Linked DNA regions of Homo sapiens: region 2 is linked to region 1. A link means that fine-mapping ties the variant in region 1 to the expression of a gene that starts in the linked region. Tissue or cell type: left ventricle. Region 1 holds a variant in brackets; the other region holds the start of a gene. All regions are shown on one strand. Distances are from middle to middle.

What was found. PIP is the estimated chance that this variant, and not a neighbour inherited with it, causes the effect.
Region 2: SVOP starts here. The variant in region 1 is fine-mapped to the expression of SVOP in left ventricle (GTEx, PIP above 0.99).

Annotation. Positions count from the first base shown.
Region 1 is chr12:108,961,671-108,972,321 of GRCh38, reverse strand. All of the region lies in intron 5 of SVOP (SV2 related protein), which reads left to right. Among named protein-coding and RNA genes, the nearest start is that of SVOP, 54 kb to the left of the region's middle. The variant C/T (reference allele first, on the strand shown) is at 5,267.
Region 2 is chr12:109,015,264-109,025,914 of GRCh38, reverse strand. It overlaps SVOP (SV2 related protein), which reads left to right and starts at 4,847. Exons shown (of 16, transcript NM_018711.5): 1 at 4,847-5,081. The coding sequence starts at 5,047. It also overlaps a transcript of USP30 not described here.

The DNA.
Region 1 (10,651 bases):
TAGCAGTTGGGAGGCCTAATAAGGATGATGTTGAAGTACAGTGAGAAGACATTGCTGTAAGGCTGCTGTGGACTCTCTTCAAAGCACAGATTCCTAGTGGGGCCCACGCATATACATTTCAGAATCTAGACAATCAATGCCTATTCATATCCCCTGGACCAGAACCATTTCCTCATTACCCCTGGCTGGGGCAGTCAAGGGATACTAGATAAAGCCATTGATTCTCTTGCCCTAAAGAGAGCCATTTCTCAAATTTTGGGTTTTTTGTTTTTCTTTTTGTTTGAGACAGGGTCTTCCTGGAGTGCAGTGGCACAGTCTCAGCTCACAGTAGCCTCAACCTCCCAGGCTCAAGCAATCCTCCCACCTTAGCCCTCCAAGCAGCTGGGACTACAAGCATGCGCCAATACACCCAGCTCATTTTTGTATTTTTTGTAGAAATGGGATTTCACCATATTGCCCAGGCTGGTCTCAAATTCCTGGCCTCAAGCGATCCTCCTGCCTTGGCCTTCCCACAGCGCTGGGATTACAGACATGAGCCACTGCACCCAGAAAGCCATTTCTCAATCCCAGCAGGACTGAGCTCCAGTGTCTGCTGTGGGAGCCTGTTCATGAAGACACCCTGAATTACCTTCCTTCCCTTCCCTGTCTCACTTCTCCACTCCCCTACTGGAATCACTGCTCAAATAAACTATCTTTACTAGGATCCTTATCTTAGAGCCAGCTTTTGGGAGAGCTCAGACATGATATGAAATGGATTTGCAAACAAGAAGGAAGAGGGAACTTACAGCTCAGGGCCTTGAAATCAGGTGGACCCAGGTTCAGTGTCAATTTTGCCACTACTGGCTGTGTGATCTTGGGCAAGCAAACTGACATTTTTTTTTTTTTTTTTTTTTGAGACGGAGTCTTGCTCTGTCGCCCAGGCTGGAGTGCAATCGCACGATCTTGGCTCACTGCAACCTCGGCCTCCTGGGTTCAAGTGATTCTCCTGCCTCAGCCACCCAAGTAGCTGGGATTACAGGCACCTGCCACCAAGCCTGGCTAATTTTTGTATTTTTAGTACAGACAGGGTTTCACCATGTTGGCCAGGCTGGTCTCAAACTCCTGACCTCAAGTGATCCACCGGCCATGGCCTCCCAAAGTGCTGAGATTACAGGCATGAGCCACTGTGCTCAGCCAAATTGACCTCTTTGATTATCAATTTCCTAATACGTATAAAGAAGAAAATAACAGAACCTGTATTGGAGGGTTAATAGAGATGAATTAGGGTTAATTGAGGTGTAAATCACTGTTTCTTTTGTTTTTTTGAGACAAGGTCTTGCTCTGTTGCCCAGGCTGGAGTGCAAAGGTGCAATCATAGCTAACTGCAGCCTTGACCTTCTGGGCTCAAGCAATCCTCCCACCTGAGCCTCCCAAGTAGCTGGGACAAGACTTGTGCCACCATGCCCAGCTAATTGTTTTTTTATTTTTTGTAGACAGACAGGGTCTCACTATGTTGCCCAGGCTGGTCTCAAACTCCTGGCCTCAAGCAGTCCTCCCACCTCAGCCTCCCAAAGTGCTGGGATTACAGATGTGAGCCACTGTGTGAATCTCTTTGTACAATGCCAGGCACATGCTAGGCACAGGACACATGTAAACTGAAATTCCGAGTGTAGCATTTCTGACAAGACCCCATGCAATGTCAATGCTTGGGACCATACTTTGAAAACGATTGGCTTAGACTAAGAATAACCTACTACTGGAGCTGGGAATGGGCTACCTCAACAAACCTAGAATTCTGTTAGGAAGGAAGAAGTGAGATCTGGATGCTGGGTAGGTAACAGGCAATCTCCACTACAACTAGCAAATCATGGGCTGAAAATAAAATAGCGCGTTGTATAGCAGGCATGATGCAAAGTATGGTTCATGCGTTAGCTCATCCAATCCCCTTAATAACCATTGAAGTAGGTGCTATTATCACTCTAACTTGATAGAAGAGGAAACTGAGGCACGGAGAGTGGGCAACTTACCCAGGACCACATGGTTTGCTCATCACAGAATCAGGTCTTGCTCATTCTAAGTCTAGAGCTCTGTCTTCACTATGATGCCTGTGGCTTGAATCAGTAGGTGCTCCAGAAGCAGGTGATGGCTCAATGAATGAATGAACGTTCCAGCAATGCCATAGAGGATGCAGACTCCAGCTGCATCCCCTCTCACTGCTATTGCGCAGGAAACTTGGGCCAGCAGACACCTGGAAGATGGTGATCAATATAACTGCCAAGAAATGGTGATCAATATAATTGCCAAGAATGTAACTCCAGAGGCAGCAGGCTGGAAACTAAATGCAGCCATGATGGGCCTCGGGGTCTTGGCCGGTGATGGGGCTGGAGATGGCAGTTGGAAAGGCCTCTCTGGGGCTCCCAAAGGAAGTAAAAGCTGGTTATTACCCCCCTGTTAACCCAAGAAGGAATTACTCTGGTCTTCAGTGGCAGCTCCTTAGATTCTGCCCCCATCTGCTCTCCCACCCACTTCCTGTTTCTGGAGCATATGAGTGATGGCATGGTGATTTTCTGTTTGGAAGAATGAACAAGAGTTTAAGGACAGGAGAGAGGAAGGAAGGAAGGAAGGAAAAAAAAGGAGGAGGGAAGTAAAGAAGAAGGGAGGGAGGGAGAAGGGACAGAGGGAGGGAAGGAAGAAAAAAAGGAAGGAACTAAAGAGGGCATGAACGCGGTGGCTCATGCCTGTAATCCCAGCACTTTGGGAGGCCGAGGTGGGAGGATGACCTGAGGTCAGAAGTTCGAGACCAGCCTGACCAACATGGTGAAACCCCATCTCTACTGAAAATACAAAATTAGCCAGGCATGGTGGCGCATGCCTGTAAGCTACTCAGGAGCCGAGATCGTGCCATTGCACTCCAGCCTGGGCAACAAGAGTGAAAATTTGTCTCAGAAAAAAAAAAAAGAAAGAAAAGGAAAGGGGGAAAGAAGAAAGGAGAAAGAGAGCGAGGTAGGAAGGGAGGGGGGAGGAAGAAAGGAAGGAGGTAGGGAGAGAGAGTGAGGAAGGGGGAGAAGGAAGAAAAAAGGAAGAAAGGAGGGAGGGAAGGAGGAGGGAAGGAAGGAGAGAAGAAAAAACACCTCTGAAAATAAAACAGAGTCATTTTTGTTTTGATGGAGCTGAGCAGCCGTTAAAAGAACTGTAAAGCTGTGGCTGTCTGAGGCTGAATCCAATGTTAATCTTTAAGCCTTTAAAATAATCAAAGGAGGCCAGGAGTGGTGGCTCATGCCTGTAATCCCAGCACTTTGGGAGGACAGATCACCTGAGCTCAGGAGTTAGAGACCAGCCTAGGCAACATGGCGAAACCCCATCTCTACAAAAACTACAAAACTTAGCCAGGCCCAGTGGCATGCACCTGTAGTGCCAGGTACTCAGGAGGCTGAGGCAGGAGAATTGCTTGAACCCAGGATGGGGAGGCTGCAGTGAGCCGAGATCATGCCACTACACTCCAGCCTGGGCAACAGAGCGAGACTCTGTCTGGAAAAAAAAATTCATTTATTTGTTCCTGAGACAAACATGCACAAACACACACACACACACACACACAAAAGACAAACATGCACACACACACACACACACACTTCAGGAATCCATAATGAGGAAATTTGCTGAACCCCAAATTCTGCTATCCAATTGCTGAATCATAAGGCAGTGAGGAATATAACAGAAAATGAGTAAAAATACCTTAACTTTGGGCTTGAATCTGACACTGCATGGCTAAAGCAAGCCACTCCCCATCTAGGGCTGAAATTTCCTTATTTATATCAGAGGAGGCTGAATTAGAAAACACAGATATTCATAGCTACCATTCATTGAATCCCCAAAATGAAAGGGCAGGTGGGTTTTGTCTCTGTGTCTGTTCTAATCATTTATTAGAGGATGCCAGAAACATGGATTTGAGGAGTCAGAAGGCTCAGTGGGATAGTGCTGTGATTGACTAGTGTTGTCTGCCACAGGCACAAGACTGAAGAGTGTGGAGGGAATTTAGTAAACTCCGTGAGGAAAGGGGCTGCATTTGTTTTGTTCACTGAGTTGGCCCCAGAGCCTGACCTCCCTGGTTGAGAGTGCACACTCAATAAATACTTCTTGAGTGACTGAGCTGTGGTGGATGAGAACCAGACCTCCTTGTTTCCACTCTCTGCTACTTTCTTATCCTCTCTAGAGCAGCAACTGCCTTATCCTCTCCAGAGCAGCAACTGCCTGATGAGTGTTCTTTGTTGACCTGGAAAGTCCACAATGCACAATGGTCATTCATGTAGGATCCCAACTTCCCTTGGAAGAGTATATTTACTCTGCCACTAGGGGCAGTAATTCACTTGGCGTTCCCATATAGACATCTTCATGTTTGTGAAGGGCCTCAGAGGAGATTTTAAAGAGATTTACAGAGGGGTTTTCAGAAATGCCATTTACTGAATCTTGAAGGTTGTAACCATATTTTGGCACCTTCCAAAATAGTAGTTCTCAGTTCAGGGCTAGGGGCACTTGGCAATGTCTAGAGACATTTTTGATTGTCACACGTTGGGGGAGGGGTGTGCTACTGGCATCCAGTGCATAGGGGCCAAGGATTCTGCTTCATAGCCCACAGTGCATGGGACAGCCCCCACCACAAAGAATGACCCAGTCCAAGATGTTGGCGGTGCTGAGGTTGAGAAACCAGGCTCTAGAAAACATGTGCAAACAATATCGCCAAGTTGCAGTGATGTGGCATCCGCTCTTCATGTTCTTTCTTCATCTCCTGGGCCTGCTCAGCCCTCATTTCTTTCTTTCTTTCTTTTTTTCCTTTTTTTTTAATTGAGACAAAGTCGCGCTTTGTCACCCAGGCTGGAGTGCAGTGGTGAGATCTTGGCTCACTGCAAGCTCTGCCTCCCAGGTTCAAGCGATTCTCCTGCTTCAGCCTCCCAAGTAGCTGGGACTACAGGCACGTGCCACCAGGCCAGGCTAATTTTTATAATTTTAGTAGAGACGGGGTTTCACCGTGTTAGCCAGGATGGTCTCGATCTCCTGACCTCGTGATCTGCCCACATCGGCCTCCCAAAGTGCTGGGATTATAGGTGTGAGCCACCATGCCTGGCCTCAGCCCTCATTTCAATATTTACCTAAGAAGCTCATTTGGACAAGTGAAATAATGCAGTGTCATTGTGAAAAGCATGGGTTTTGAGGCCAGACTGCTTGGGTTCAAATCCCAGCTCCTCTAATTAAAGACAAGCTATTCAACTTCTCTGTGTCTCAGTTTTCT[C/T]ATCTGTAGGTGGGATAATAATAGTCTCTCCCATGGTGCTGTTATGAGGAGTAAATGGCCCTTGTACATAAAACTCTTGGCACAGAGAAAATGACATAAATGTCTATTATTATACCACTGCCAAGCTTGTGGTGTCCGTAAATGGCAATGCCAGCATTGAAATACAGGCACACCTGGCTCCAGGGTCCACATCCTTAACCCTGACCTTGGCCGCTGGGAGACATAACTGAATTATCCCTCAGAATTTAGTTGATTAGTTGAACATTCATTCATCCCAAATAGATGAAGCCCAGGAAGGCTGCCCATATGGTGTCCCGCCAGTTCTTCCAAACAGCTTGATAAATTCCATACCCAACATGAAACCGGCCTGACCAGAGGGAAAGAGAAAGTGTCCCCAGATTGCAGAGCTTCCTCCTCCCCAGCATGGAATTCTGGCCCAACCTCAGGAAGGACAGATCAGACTCTAATTATAAAGCTTCCCCAAAATTCCCCCAGGAACACTGTGCAAGCCAGGCAGCTGGCAAGCCTTGGCAACCACCGAGAACCTCCTTGATCTGCCCTGGCCCAGCTATAAGATTCCTGCCGGGGCGTTCACCGCATGATATTGTGGGGCATTCACATACGGGGTTAGGACTCAGTGAGCCACTTTGGTTCCTACAGAAGTTTCTACCACCTGGGAGTTTGTGGCAGCCATGGAAACGTGAAGGAAACTGTAGGTGTGTGGTCTTGAAGACATGGAGATAAACGCATCCAGGTTTATATCACAGTGCACCCCTGTTGACTGAGGTGAGCTTGGGCAAGATGCTTCACCTCTCTGAGCTTCAGTTTCCCCATCTGCAAAATAGACTCCATAATAGGCACTTTAATGGGGGGATTAAATAAGAAAATGTAGCCAGGCATGATGGCATGTGACTGTGGTCCAGGCTACTTGGGGGCTGAAGTGAGAGGATCGCTTGAGCCCAGGAATTCAAGGATGCAGTGAGCTGTGACTGAGCCACTGCACTCCAGCCTGGGTGACAGAGCAAGATGTCATCTCTAAAGAAGGAAAGGAAAGGAAGGAAGGGAGGGAGGGAAGTGGGGGGAGGGAATGGAGGGAGGGAGGAAAGAAGGAAAGAAGGAAGGAAGGAAGGGAGAGAGGGAAAAAGTGTATAATACACTTAGAATATGGTATGGAGCGGTCACTATCTAGTTCAAAAGCTATTAGGTCTATCTTATCTTTAAGAAGGAAGTGAAGGTGCCTGGCAGGCGCTCGGACTCCCTCTGATGATCCTTGGGCCTCCTCGACCTGTAAATACTGTCCTTCGGTTGAACGTGTTAGAGAATACCACAGGCCACATTTGGCCCACGAGCACCAGGCTTTCTAGGCTACAAGTTGCAAACTGGTAACCCATAGGCCAAATATGGCCCCCGATGTGTTTTATTTATCCTGCACAATGTTTTATAGGATTTTGAATCAGTTGCCTCCATTTCAAAAATGACATCTTGCATAAAAATAAAGTTATGTGTTTTTTGGAAAATCAGGTAATCTGGAGGCCTGGAACCCACATTTTGTCATGGTATCTTTTGGCTAGAGTTGAACAGAGGCTGACACGACAGGGAAAGTTCCCTGTAATTCCACCAGGCCCCCATCCTTGCTGTGTTACATGTGCATTGTGCATTTATGTTTTCTGTCAGAGGTCACAGGGAGCCATCAAAGGCTCTAGAGGAAGGGAGTGGCTCATTCAAGGTTGGAAGTTCTGGCTCCAACTTTGGCACCACTTACGGATCTTCAGCAAATTGCTCAACTACTTGGGCCCTTGCTATGCTAATTTGTAAAGTAGACATGAAAATAACAACCTTTGTTCACAGGGCTGCTGTGAGGACCCAGTGTAATGTTGTGACAGTGGTTAATGAAATGCAAATGAAAGTTCCATGAAGTCAGAGACTCTGGCTGTCATGTTCCTTACGGTAGCCCAGGGCCTAGCAAACAGCAGGTGTTCAATATATGCATATTTTATGCATGAATGGATGAATAATATATATCAGTATCTTTAATGCTGGCTACACAGCATGTGTTCAACATGTGTTTATTGAATAAATGAATGAATGGGTGAAGAAAATATGTCAGTGTCTGGTATACAGCAGGTGCTCAATACATGCTTATTGAATGAGCAAATTAATGAATGCATAATGTCTATGCATCTACCCTGGAGCCTTATATAAAGGGGATGCTCAATAAATGTAAAAAGAAGGGAGAGAGGGAAGGAGGAAAGAAGGAAGGAAGGAGCTATCAATCTATAGAGGGCAGAACAGATATTAGACGGAATGACAGTCATAGTTAATGAAAAGCCCAAAGGCCCGTGAGACATGTCTGCGGAGTCCCAAACAAGCTATTGGGTGGGGCTTGCTGGCAGTACCCCCTGCTTTTGTAATATCCATGACAGGCCTTACACAGGGTTGCTGAGCCCTCATTTTGGGGCAGCTGGAAAGCCCTGGCATCAACAGACAAATGCAGAGCCAGCTGCAACCTGTTGTGATCAAACAGGACAGATAATACGGCTCCCAGCAGACCTTGAAGGAGGGTTAACTCCCATGCACTTGTCTCGGTGCCTTCTTTTCTCCCGCTGATGCCAATTAAGTCTTCTGTTTGATTCAAGACTCCTTGGATTCCAAGGAAGAAAGTCCCTATTAAGTTAGCTTAAGCCAAAAGAAAGGGATTAAATGTCTGTATGGCCAGTACCGATGTTACAGTCATGGATTTAGGAGTGCAAAAATGTTGCTTTATTATTATCATCACTTCCTAGACTTTAGTAAATCCTGTGCCACCTATTATCTTATGTACTTAATATCTTTCTTCTTTCTTTCTTTTTTTTGATTTAATTTTTGTAGACCAAGGGTCTCGCTATGTTGCCCAGATTGGTCTCAAACTCCCAGCCTCAAGTGATCCTTTTGCCTCGAGCTCTCAAAGTGCTGGGATTACAGGCATGAGCCACCTTGCCCGGACCTGAATAACTTTCTTTATATCAAATTGCTTTTTAAAAATCGATCACTTGTAACATGGGGCTAATAAAAAAATTGTAATATATTTTTGGAAAGTGAAACTATACAGTCTTAATTGGAAGATCAATAACAATTGCCTTAAGTAGGAAGTGACTGCAAAAATAAATGCAACACAAACAAAGCAATGTTATTAAATTCTTAGTGGTTGTGGTTGTCCCAGTGCCTTCTGTGTTAAATAGAGAGGAGAGTAGCTATTTTTTAAAATGTGTTGGCTGGGTGTGGTGGCTCATGCCTGTAATCCTAGCACTTTAGGAGGCTGAGGTGGGTGGATTGTTTGAGTCCAGGAGTTCGAGACCAGCCTGGGCAACATGGCGAAACCCTGGTCAACATGGCAAAACACTTACTCTACCAAAAGTACAAAAATTAGCTGGCCATGGTGGTGCAAACCTGTAATACCAGCTACTCAGAGGCTGAGGCAGGAGAATCGCTTGAACCCAGGAGGCGGAGGTTGCAGTGAGCTGAGATCGTGCCACTGCACTCCAGCCTGGGTGACTGAGCGAGACTCTATTTCAAAAAAAAAATAAATAAATACAAATAGATAAATAGGTGTTAAAGACAGACTGGCACCTCACGGACTCTTTGACATAATCATAAAAATGAAGACTGAAATGAAAAAAATAACTTTCTTGTGAGGTGATGCAAAATTATTTAAAATATTCTCTCTGCCACATAAAGTCATTTTCTAAAAGACTCGAAATCATTTGGTAGGCTTCCAAATTTCCTCACTCATCTCCTTTAATTCAGTTTAATATCTTAAAGCAAAAAATCAGTATGTTTCATACTTGCCCCCTGAAGTGTTCCCTGGGGGACAGGAAGGTGAACTCACCCTTGGAGCTCTGGGAAGGGTATTGCAGAAAGAGGCCTGACCAGACCTCACAGAGCAGGTTGAAAATGCACGTGAAATTTGCATTTTACCCTCTCATATTTGGCATTGATTGTGATATAAAAATAGTATTTGTTTACTCTTAATTTTTTTTCCAATCTCTAAGGGTAATTAACACTCCAGGAATATGTGCCATGTTTGTCTTTTTTGTTTTGTTTTGTTTTGTTTTGAGATAGAGTCTCACTCTGTCCCTCAGGCTGGAGTGCAGTGGCAAGTTCTTGGCTCACTGCAACCTCCACCTCCCAGGTTCAAGCAATTCTCCTGCCTCAGACTCCCAAGTAGCTGGGACTACAGGCACCCGCCACTCCACCTGGCTAATTTTTGCATTTTCAGTAGAGACAGGGCTTCACCATGTTGGCCAGGCTAGTCTTGAGCTCCTGGCCTCAAGTGATCCCCGGCCTCAGCCTCCCAAAATGCTGGGATTACAGATGTGAGCCACCGTGCTCGGCCCCATGTTTGTCTTGAAGCATTGTGTCCCTCTGTGGTTCTTGACCCTATTGAACACATGCCCTCTTTACTTTAAAAATGTGGAAAATGTGCCTCTGTAATCCCAGCTACTCAGGAGACTGAGGTAGGAGGATCCCTTGAACTCAGGAGTTCAAGATCAGCGTGGGCAACATAGCAACACTCCATTTCTTTAAAAAAGTGAACACTGAATAACGCCTTCTTAACTATCCAGAAAAAATTTCCAAAGATAAAATAACCTAGTCATTCACGTACTTTAAAAAAGAAATCAGCCAGGCGTGTTGGCTCACACCTGTAATCTCAGCACTTTGGGAGGCTGAGGTGGGTGGATCACTTGATCCCAGGAGTTTGAGAATAGCCTGGGCAACATGGTGAAACCCCATGTCTATAAAATATACAAAAATTAGCCAGGCATGGTGGCACACATCTGTGCTTCCAGTTACATGGGAGACTGAGGTGGGATGATCACTTGAGCCCGGGAGGTTGAGGCTGCAGTGAGCCGAGATTGCACCACTGCACTCTAGCCCGGGCAACAGAATGAGACCCTGTCTCAAAATAAATAAATAAGAAAGAAATAAGTTACTTGTTTCATTTGCAAATTAGGAGGATGTAAGAGTATGTCATTCATTAAAATAACTTCAAAATGAGTTTGCCCGCACAGGAAACTGCCTTTATATTATGTTTTATTCTTCATAGTAAAAATATCACTCAGTACAGTTATACTTTGATATAGTTTTATCCTGGTACAATAGATGTTAGAATAATGATGCCAAAATAAACTTGTTAATGAGAAAAAGAAAGAAATCAGTTCTAAAGTGCTAACTAGGAGGGAGAAATTTAAAACGTCATTAATAAAATAAAATTTATTTTTAATATGCAAATGTTTACCTACAACTCTGTCTAGATGACAAGAGGAAGGGGTCAATATCTGCCCCTGATTGTAAATACGTTTGGACTTAACTGAATATTGTTGATGGTTTTTCTTTACATTTGACCTT
Region 2 (10,651 bases), 54 kb before region 1:
GGAGTTTGAGATCGGCCTGGGCAATGAAGCAAAACTCCATCTCTACAAAAAATACAAAAATTAGCCAGGTGTGGTGGTGCACACTTGTAGTCCTAGCTACTCGGGAGGCTGAGGTGGGAGAATCGCTAGAGCTGGGCTGAGGCAGGAGGATTACTGTCCAGGCTGCAGTGAGCTGTGATCACACCACTGCACTCCAGCCTGGGTGACAGAGCAAGACCCTGTCAAAAAAAAAAAGTGGCAGTTCCACTTCCACCCACTCTCAGTCTTTTAGCTGCTTCTTTTAGTATCTACAGGCAAATTTCTATATGAGATACTCATATGGCTAGTTTTTGTTTTCTCAATTTTGGACATGTTCTGTTGATTTCCATAAACTTGAGGAGGATTTAGTTTTTCCCAATACCATCTATTTTTCTTATCCTTCATAGGCCAGCTAACATTTTAAGGTAGTAGAAAAGATATTGATTTGGGGGCTGGGGGGTGAAGAGAGCAACATAATGATAAGCACTGTATTAGTCAGAGCTCTCCGGATAGACAAAACCAACAAGATAAATAATATCTTCATATAATATAATATATTACATAGATATAAATATAAGGTATCTCTCATATAATACATGAAGGGATTTATCAGGGGAATTGGCCAACATAATTAGGGAGGCTGAGAATTTCCATAACAGACCATTTGCAAGCTAGAAACCCTGGGATGCTGGGCCAAATTCAAGGGCCCAAAAACCCAAGGGGGCCACACATGTAAGTCTTGGTTTCTAAAGACTAAAGAGCCTGCAGTTCTGATGTCCAAGGGCAGGAGAAGAAACAGCTCCTGGAGAAAGAGATCAACTCACCTTTCCTCTGTTTCTGTTCTGTCTGGGCCTCTAGCTGATTTGATGGTGCTCATTCACACATCGAGGGCAGATCTTCCTGAACTTTGTCCACTCAGACTCACACAGCAATCTCCTCTTGAAACACCCTTACAGACACACCAAAAAATGCTGCTTTAGGCTGGTGTGGTGGTTCACGCCTGTAATCCCAGCACTTTGGGGGGCCAAGGCAGGTGGATCACGAGATCAGGAGATCGAGACCATCCTGGCTAACATGGTGAAATCCTGTCAATACTAAAAATACAAAAAATTAGCCCAGGGTGGTGGTGGGCGCCTGTAGTCCCAGCTACTCAGGAGGCTGAGGCAGGAGAATGGCATGAACCTGGGAAGCAGAGCTTGCAGTGAGCTGAGATCGCGCCACTGCACTCCAGCCTGGGAGACAGAGCGAGACTCGGTCTCGGGAAAAAAAAAATGCTGCTTTACCAGTTCTCTAGGTATTCCTTAAACCCACCAAGTTGATACTTAAAATTAATCATTGTGGCCGGGCACGGTGGCTCAAGCCTGCAATCCCAGCACTTTGGGAGGCCGAGGCAGGTTGATTGCTTGAGCTCACGAGTTTGAGGCCAGCCTGGGCAACATGATGATACCCCCTCTCTATAAAAAATACAAAAATTAGCCTGGCATGGTGGCGCACACCTGTAATCCCAGCTATTCGGGAGGCTGAGGTGGGAGGATGGCTTGAGCCTGAAAGGTGGAGGTGGCAATGAGCTGAGATCACACCACCACACTCCAGCCTGGATGATAGAGCCAGATCTTGTCTCAAAAAATAAAATTAAAATAAATTAATTTAACCATTGCAACAGCTAACACTTATTATGTGCCATCCAAGTGTGTGGTCCTTCACCTCCATTTTATCTTTGATTCTGACCACCACCCTATGAAGTAGTTATGGTTATTGATCCCCGTATTTCTGATGAGGAAATGCAAGCACGGAAAGTTAGACAACCTGCTCGAGGTTACCCACCCAGGAAGAGGTGGAGCTGGGAAGAGAGTCCCCAGGACTGAGCCTGCTTTAACCACTCTCCAGTTCCAGGCTGCAAACTCCCTTTTTCCTTTGAAGGAACTTGACTTGGTCTCTGTTGAACATCAAAAAATACTGATTGGCCAGTCGCGGTGGTGATCACACCTGTAATCCCAGCACTTTGGGAGGCCGAGGCAGGTGGATCACAAGGTCAGGAGTTCAAGACCAGCCTGGCCAAGATGGTGAAACCCCGTCTCTACTAGAAATACAAAAAAATTAGCCAGGCATGGTGGCGGGCACCTGTAATCCCAGGTACTTGGGAGGCCGAGGCAGAGAATTGCTTGAATCCGGGAGGTGGAGGTAGCAGTGAGCCGAGATTGCGCCATTGCACTCCAGCCTGGGTGACAGAGAGAGACTCTGTCTCAAAAAAAAAAAAAAAAAAAAAAAGTCCTGATTAAGGCACATGAGTAGAAGCTGAAATGGGATGATAAGGGGGCTATTTATTTATTTATTTATTTATTGAGACAGAGTTTCGCTCTATCACCCAGGCTGGAGTGCAGTGGCGCGATCTCAGCTCATTGCAACCTCTGCTTCCTGGCTTCAAGCGATTTTCCTGCCTCAGCCTCTCGAGTAGCTGGGACTACAGGTCTGTGCCACCACACCTGGCTAAGTTTTTTTATTTTCAAGTGGAGACGAGGTTTTGCCATGTTGGCCAGGCTGGTCTGGAACTCCTGACCTCAAGTGATCCATCCGCCTCGGCCTCCCAGAGTGCTGGGATTATAGGCGTGAGCCATGGTACCCGACCCCTAAGAGGGCTGTTTAGAGTGAGCATAATGAATATTCATAGAGCCCTAGAGAGCCCCACCTGACACCAGGATTGAGGGAAAAGGGGTAATTAAAGCAAAAACCTTCAGAGACATTTGAATCCATAATCGAAAAGGTACCAGGTTGTCCAGCTCCCTTTCCCAGCTATGCAACAATGGGGATACTGACAAGTGTTTGGATTGGATGTCTTTAGATAAGTGTCCACCCTCTTAGCCAATCAGCTGTGGCCAGGAATCATGTGATACCAAATGTAGTGCACAGCAGGGATGGGGGAGAGATTCCTTTAGAAATAAGTGTGGGTGGGACAACTTGTGATTGACTCCAGTATGAGGTGAGAAGGAGCCATGAATAAGTTCAAACTATCATTGTGACAGACACATAGTTGTTGCTCATTAATATTTACTAGATAAATAATACATTGGAGCTTGAGTACCACTGTATAATTGGTTTTCCCAACATTAGATTTGTTTAAAGTTATCCAATGTTTCAATAGTTCCAATTTCTCCTACTATACCCGCAATGGATGGTTTCTTTTGAGACACTCAGAGAAAGCCTAGCATTTAAGGGCGCAGGTTGTGGAGATAGACTGCCGGGGTTTTAAGTCCAGATCAACTCTTTCCTGTCCTCATGACCTTGTGCAAGCAAATCTACCCTTCTCTGAGCCTTGTTTCCTCATCTTACAAAATAAGGATAAAAATCACACCTGCTCATAGGATTGTTGCAAAGATCAAGGGGACCATGGTGAAGTACATATCCGGGTGCCTGGCACACATTCAATTTTGGATTTTCAAGTCCTTTTATGGATTCGATGTGAGATTGTTTTCAGTTCTCAGATTGGTTTTCTTGTTCCCTCTTCCAACTTCCCCCACCCTTTGTCAACAATTAAAGAAAAAAAGAAAAAAATGTTTCCTTCTTCCTTTAGTTCCTTGTAAGTGTCCATTCAACGGTCATTCTCATAGCTTTTGCCAGTTGCCATCATGGATCATCTTAGTAGTTTTCTGTTGTATAATTTTCCAGCTTTTCTTTTCATTTGTTCACACTTGATCAGGGGTTTCCACTTCATGGTGCTGGGGAGCTTTTAAAAAATACCCTGAGGCCGGGCGCAATGGCTCACATCTATAATCCCAGCATTTTGGGAGGCCGAGATGGGAGGATTGCTTGAGGCCAGGAGTTCTAGATCAGCCTGGGCAACAAAGCAAGACCCCATCTCTACAATAAATAAATTAGCTGGGTATGCTGGGATGAGCCTGTGATCCCAGCTACTAGGGAGGTTGAGGTGGGAGGATTGCTTTAGCCCAGGTGGTTGGGGCTGTAATGAGCCATGATCATGCCACTGCAACTCCAGCCTGGGCAACAGAGCAAGAACTTGTCTCAAAAATAAATAAATAAATATTGAAAAAATAAAAAATACCCAGGCTTGGCCTCCACCTCCCGAGAGTTGAGTTCAATTGGTTTGAAATGGAGCCAGGCAATTCTTATATGCAGCCTGAACTGAGAACCATTTATTCAACAAATATTTATGGGGTACCTTCTATGTGCCAGACACTGTTCTAGTACTTGGGACACATCAGTGAAACCTCATGGAGCTTAAGTTCTAAAGGGGTCAGAAATTCTAGTGAGAGGTGGCTTAGGGGAACCATTAAACTATCTAGGATCTTGAAGGCAGAGACTTTATTTTACTCATGTTTTTATTCCCCAGGGTCAGGGCTGTAGAATTCACCCAATAACGCTTGTTGAAAGAATGAGTGATCTTTGGCCTTCTCATACCTAATTTACATTTTTCTTTTCTTGATTCATTTCACTAGACCCTTAGCTCCACGATGACAATGACAGGTCGAATTTGTTCTGTCATACCCCCAGTGCCTATTACAGTGCCTGGCACATAGGTGCTCAGTAAACCGTACTTAAATGCATGCCTGTATTTGTTACAGCAGCCTGGGTTTCAAGAGTGTTATACGGATAACATTAATGAATCCACGCAAATAAACATTTAGACACGCATCGTCAATCAAAGGGTGCTCACTGGTACCCGGACAACCATTTCACAGACTGGTGTGCCCTATAGGCATCCCAGTGATACACCATCAGCCAGAGAGCCTGTGAACTCTTCCAAGCAGAAGGGCTCTCCCTGCCCCCTCTCCCCGCGCAGCTCGCTCTGCCCTCCGCCTCCTCTTCTCCGCCCACTCTCGCCGCGGTCTCCTGGCGGCGGAGGCTTTGTCTCGTGGGCTGGTCCCCAGCGGCTCCCTCCCCGAACAGCTGCTGCTCCAGGGAGGAAGCGGCGCGGGTGCTGTCCAGCTTCCCGGTGCTGAAAACCGGAGGGCTCGTCATCCACCACTACCATGTAAGGGCCATGAGAAGGGCTCATCCTGGCGCAGCGCGGACATGGAGGAGGACTTATTCCAGCTAAGGCAGCTGCCGTGAGTATCATGGGGGCGAGCAAGAGGCAGACAGGCTTTCTTTTAAAAAACGAAAACCTGCAAGGGGGGTGGGGGGGGGTACATCTCTGCATGGTTTCTTGAATTTAAAGGGAACTGTTTCAGAGGAAGGAATTAGGGCCTGGAGGAGACAAGCCATTTTCTTTCCCCAGCAGCCCAGCCTCTGTATCTCTGACTCAGTTCCATTTATCAGATCTGTCAGGACCTTATGGGGGAACCACGGGGGTTATGATTCCCCTTTTAATTGCTCTCAATCCTAAAAGGATTTTCAGATGTGAGCTTTAAGAAAGCATTAGCTGCTGTTTTGAAATGTGGACAGAATTGGTGAGTCTATGCAATGACATCGGTCCTTTCCAGCCCTAATCCTATGCTGTGAAATCCATAATTTTTCTGCAAGGTCTTTTGGAAGGGAATGATACTGATGCTGCAAACTGGTTGATAAAAAAAACTGGGATGCCTTCCTAGAGGAGAGGGTTGGGCAAAGTCCTGTTGTTTATGAAGTGTGTGAATGAGAGGGCTGTGCACGGTCGGTGAAACCTCTTGCCTTCTTCTGAATGAAAGGTTTTTGTAGCAGCTAGCTAGAGTGAGACTCACTGTCGGAACATCAGGAATATACTGCTTTGAGGATGGCGATTTTTAAGAAAAACCAAATTTGCTCTGAGAATCTGGGGGAAATATCAAGCAACCGAAAGGACAGGGGCCTTGTAGAGGGGCTTACAGATTTTTCCTACCACAAGCAGATAGTGATTTGTTAAGTAAATTCCAAGAGTATGAGAGGGGGCATTAAAAAGAACATTGGTGGGGCAGGGGTTGTTTTAATTTTTAGAAGCACTAGCCATTTGAGTGGTAAGAGTAGATTCCCTTTGGGATTGTTAGAAAGGATAAATTATAGTTAGTGTGTGTGTATTTTCTTGATTTTAAAAATGGTGGATTATTTTTTTCTATAATCTACTGAGGAATTCTCCCAAGTGACTTTTAGTGTGACTGATACAGTTCTCTGAGGCTGTGAGTACTGAAGGGGATTGTAATGTTTACTTTTCAATCAGAGTAAAATTAGTTTTCACCAAAATTTTTAATTAATTTAAAATTTGCTTTAAAGTTTTACTAATTGATCCACAAATAGTATATCTGATTATGTAATACAGCATTATTTCACAAATGCTAGAGGATGTTCAGTAATAATATCCAGACGTAGATATAACAGTACATAAAAATGTAAAGGTCTGATTACAAATTTCCCAAGGAAAACATACAACTTTTATTGAGAATAAATATCATGTTCAAAAATAAAATGATTACCCCCAATAAAAAATAATTTAATATCAGAAATGTGAACTTTGGTACTCAGAATTAGACTACATATTGGAACTGTGGTTTTCCTGGGATAAATTTTTCAATAATGTCAGAGGATGTGAACTTTTCAAAGATTCATGTGTATATGAACTTTGCAAAAGGGTCATGTATATTTAATCTACTAATATATAGACCTGACATTATCATGACAATTCCTTCTTTAATTAAAAAAAGCAAAAATAAGAAGTTTTCACTTATTTAAATGTAAAAATTTAGGTTTTTATAGGAATATAATACAATGTACCAATAAATAAAGGTAAATAAAGTTCAAAGAGAAGCACAAGAATAAAGAGTAAGTCTCCTTTCTTTTCAAACCCCAGTTCTATTCCCCAGAGTTAAGTTTCTTGATTATTCTTTCTGGTGCTTAATAGGCATAAATACATATATTATCTATTAGGCCAAATTGTGTACTGGTTAAGTACATTATCTCTTGAATCAGACATACTTGGGTTCAAATCCTTACTATGCCACTTCCTGGCTGTGTGACTTTAAGCAAGTGACTTAACCTTTCTGAGACTCAGTTTCCTTAGCTACACAATGAGGATCATAACAGTACTTAATTCATAAGGTTATTGTGAAGATCAAATGAGATAATGTATGCCAAATGCCGGGCAGACACAAAGCACTCAATGCATATTAGCTATTACTATTATTACATCTGAAAAATCATTTATATAAACAAAATATGTAGGTTTACTGTACTGGACTCCCTCAAAATCTTAATCTGCAAACCCCAAATGACATTTGAATGAAGTCAAAATTAGCCCTGAAATGTGTTGACCTCAATTTCTAAAAAAAGAGTAAGCTAAAAGGAATGGCCACATGAATCTGAGTGGGTTACAAATCACGATTTAGATGTTTTTTAAACCACACCCTTCGTATATTATGCACAGATTGCAGGCAGCAGATTTCCCGAGAGCAATATGGCTAAAAAAAAATTCAGAGTGCCTTGTAGAGGGTTGGCAAGAGTGGACTTTGGAATAGGCTCAGTCCCGTGGGAGGCCAAGTGTTAGCAGATTATAAGCCACTAAGTAGTTCACATGGTTGGGGAATGGGGAAAGGGAGTGAGGGAGTCTAAGAAACAGTCCTTCCTCACACTTGAAGGAACCCTCACACAGCTCTGGGGTGGTTCATTTGAGACCACAAAAGACCATTGTTTTTCACATGCTGTCCACTCTGGGACAGCACCACATAGAGGAGATTTGGGAGGCTGAGAGTTTGCATCCAGTTCTGCCTTTTTGTGTGACCTTGTGCAAATCAGACTTTTCTAGGTCTGTTCTTTCTAGGATGATTTCTTGAAAGCAAGTTTGCAGACACTGATTGATCGATTCATTCATTCATTCATTCATTCATTCATCCATCCATTCTTTCACTGATTTACTTAGATACCATCCTAGGTACAAAGGATTCTACAGCTGAGTAAGGTAGAATGGTTCTTGCGCTTAAGCACCTCGCAATCTAGAGCTGCAATGTCCAATAGTACATTTAGCCACTAGCTACATGTGGCTATTTAAATTTAAACTTAAATGAATTTAAAGTATGCATTTTGTACATGAAATAATTTATATAGTATAATAAAGAATATAAAATGTATATATAATATACAATAGAAAATATGTGGCCAGGTGCAGTGGGTCATGCCTATAATCCCAGCACTTTGGGAGACCGAGGTGGGTGGATCATTTGAGGTCAGCAGTTCGAGACAAGCCTGACCAACATGGTGAAACACTGTCTCTACTAAAAATACAAAAAAAATTAGTCAGGCATGGTGGCACATCCCAGCTACTTGGGAGGCTGAGGCAGGAGAATCTCTTGAACCTGGGAGGCAGAGGTTGCGGTGAGCAAAGATTGTGCCACTGCACTCCAGCCTGGGCAACACAGTGAGACTCTGTCTCAAAAAAAATGTGTGTGTATATATATAATGTAAAATTTTAAAAAAATCTGTCCCTCAGTCATACTAACCACATTTCAAATACTCAATAGCTACATGTGGCTAGTGGCTACTATATTGGACAGCATACGTGTAGGCCAGCAGTCCCCAACTTTTTTGGCTCCAGGGACTGGTTTCTTGGAAGACAATTTTTCCATGGATGGGGGTGGTTAGGTAGGGGGATGGGGTTGGGGTTTCAGGATAAAACCATTCCACCTCAGATCTTCAGGCATTAGATTCTCATAAGGAGCCTGCAACTTAGACCCCTTGTGTGTCAGTTCACAATAGGGTTCACGCTCCTATGAGAATCTAATGCCGCTGCTGATTGACAGGAGGTGGAGCTTGGGCGGTAATGCTCACTCACCCAAGGCTCACTGTGCAGCCCGGTTCCTAACAGGCCAGAGACCGTTACGGGTCCTTGGCCCAGGGATTGGGGACCCCTGGTCTAGGACATTTCCATAATTGCAGAAAGTTCTATTGGACAGCACTGGTTTGGTAGGAGGGAGGACACTGAACACATCATTGCAAATAATTATGAGAATTGTCTTAAGTGCTATCAAGAACTACTGCAAGCCTGGGGAATATATTGAGACCTGTTACTACTAAAAAAATTTTTTTCTTAATTAGCCAGGTCTGGTGGCTCATGCCTGTGGCCCCAACTACTAGGGAGGCTGAGGCAGGAGGATTGCTTGAGCCTGGGGGTTCAAGGCTGCAATGAGCCATGATCATGACACTGCACTCCAGCCTGAGTGACAGAGTGAGATCCTGTCTCAAAAAAAAAAAAAAAAGAACTAATGCAGGGTACAGGTAAGGAAACTAGTTTTAGATGGGAGGTGGGTATCAGGGAAGGCTTCCCTGAGGAAGTGACATTTGACCTGATCCTCTGGAGATATGATTTCAGGAAAAAGAGAGAGGATTAAGAACATTCCAGGAAGAAGAAACTGTATGGGTAAAAGCCCTGAATTGGGAAAAAAGCTTGGTGTGTCTCAAAATCAGCCAAAAGATCATTAATGAACAAGTGGCTTGAGGGGAAACTGCTGAGGATAACAGGGAGTAGGCCATCCAGGGTCTTGTAGTATATGACAAGGAGTTGGGACATCATCCTGCATTTGCTGAATCTACTGTCTCCTTTCTTACAAACCCTGTCTTTCAAGATTGAGTTTGGGTCCACCATTTTAATAAATCTGCCCCTGACTTCTGCCGGTCTTAATCAATAGCAGAGGTAAAAATGTGGAAACTGACTCAGGCAGATCTGGGTTCAAACTCTGGCTCCGGCCCTATCTGGGTGGCCTCGGGCCAAAGCCTTCTTCTCCCCAAGGCTGAGTGCCTATCGGTGAAGTCAGAACAGTGATAATACCTGCAGGGCTGTTGTAAGGATCAGAGAGATAATCGCTGGGAAGCTCTCAGCACAGTGCCTGGCTTTGAGTATGGTCTCGATTTGTGGTGCTGGTATTGTTTTCCTCCACTCAGCATTCGTTTCCCTGATCTTCCAACTTATTAGGTAGTAGGAGCGCCTGGAAGCCACATTCTCCTGTGCAAAACACTAAGAAGATGTCTGGTGTGGTGTGAGAGCACATGTCTGAACTTGAACTCTTCGTCCGTCCTCCACCTGCTCCTCTTTCAGCCTCCCCCATCTCAGTTGATAACAACTCCATTTGTCCCATTTGGCCGGAAACTTTGGAGTCAAGTTAGACTCCCCTCTTCCTCCCATTTCACTTTTTTGTTTTGTTTTGTTTTGTTGAGACAGAGTCTCGCTCTGTTGCCCAGGCTGGAGTGCAGTGGTGTGATCTCAGCTCACCGCAACCTCTGCCTCCCAGGTTCAAGCGATTATCATAGCCACCCCTGTAGCTGGGATAACAGGCATGCACCACCATGCCCAGCTAATTTTTTATAGAGATGGGGTTTTGTCATGTTGGCCAGGCTGGTCACCTGGCTCCAAGTGACCCTCCCGCCTTGGCCCCGCAAAATGCTGGGATTACAGGCATGAGCCACCATGCCTGGCCCCATTTCACTTTCAGTCCATCAAGAAATCCTTTGGTCCTGCCTTCAACTTAACACCCAGACTCCCACCCCTTCTGCTGCAATCCTCTGGTTCAAGTATCCATCCTCTCTCACTGGGATTGATTGCAATGATGTCTGTGCTGGTTTTCCCGCTCCTGCCCTTGCCTCCCTATAGCCCATTCTCAACCCAGTGGCCAGAGGGATTCTTTAAAAGTCAGATCATGTCCTTCCTTGGCTCAAAAATCTTCTATGGTTCCCATCTCACCTC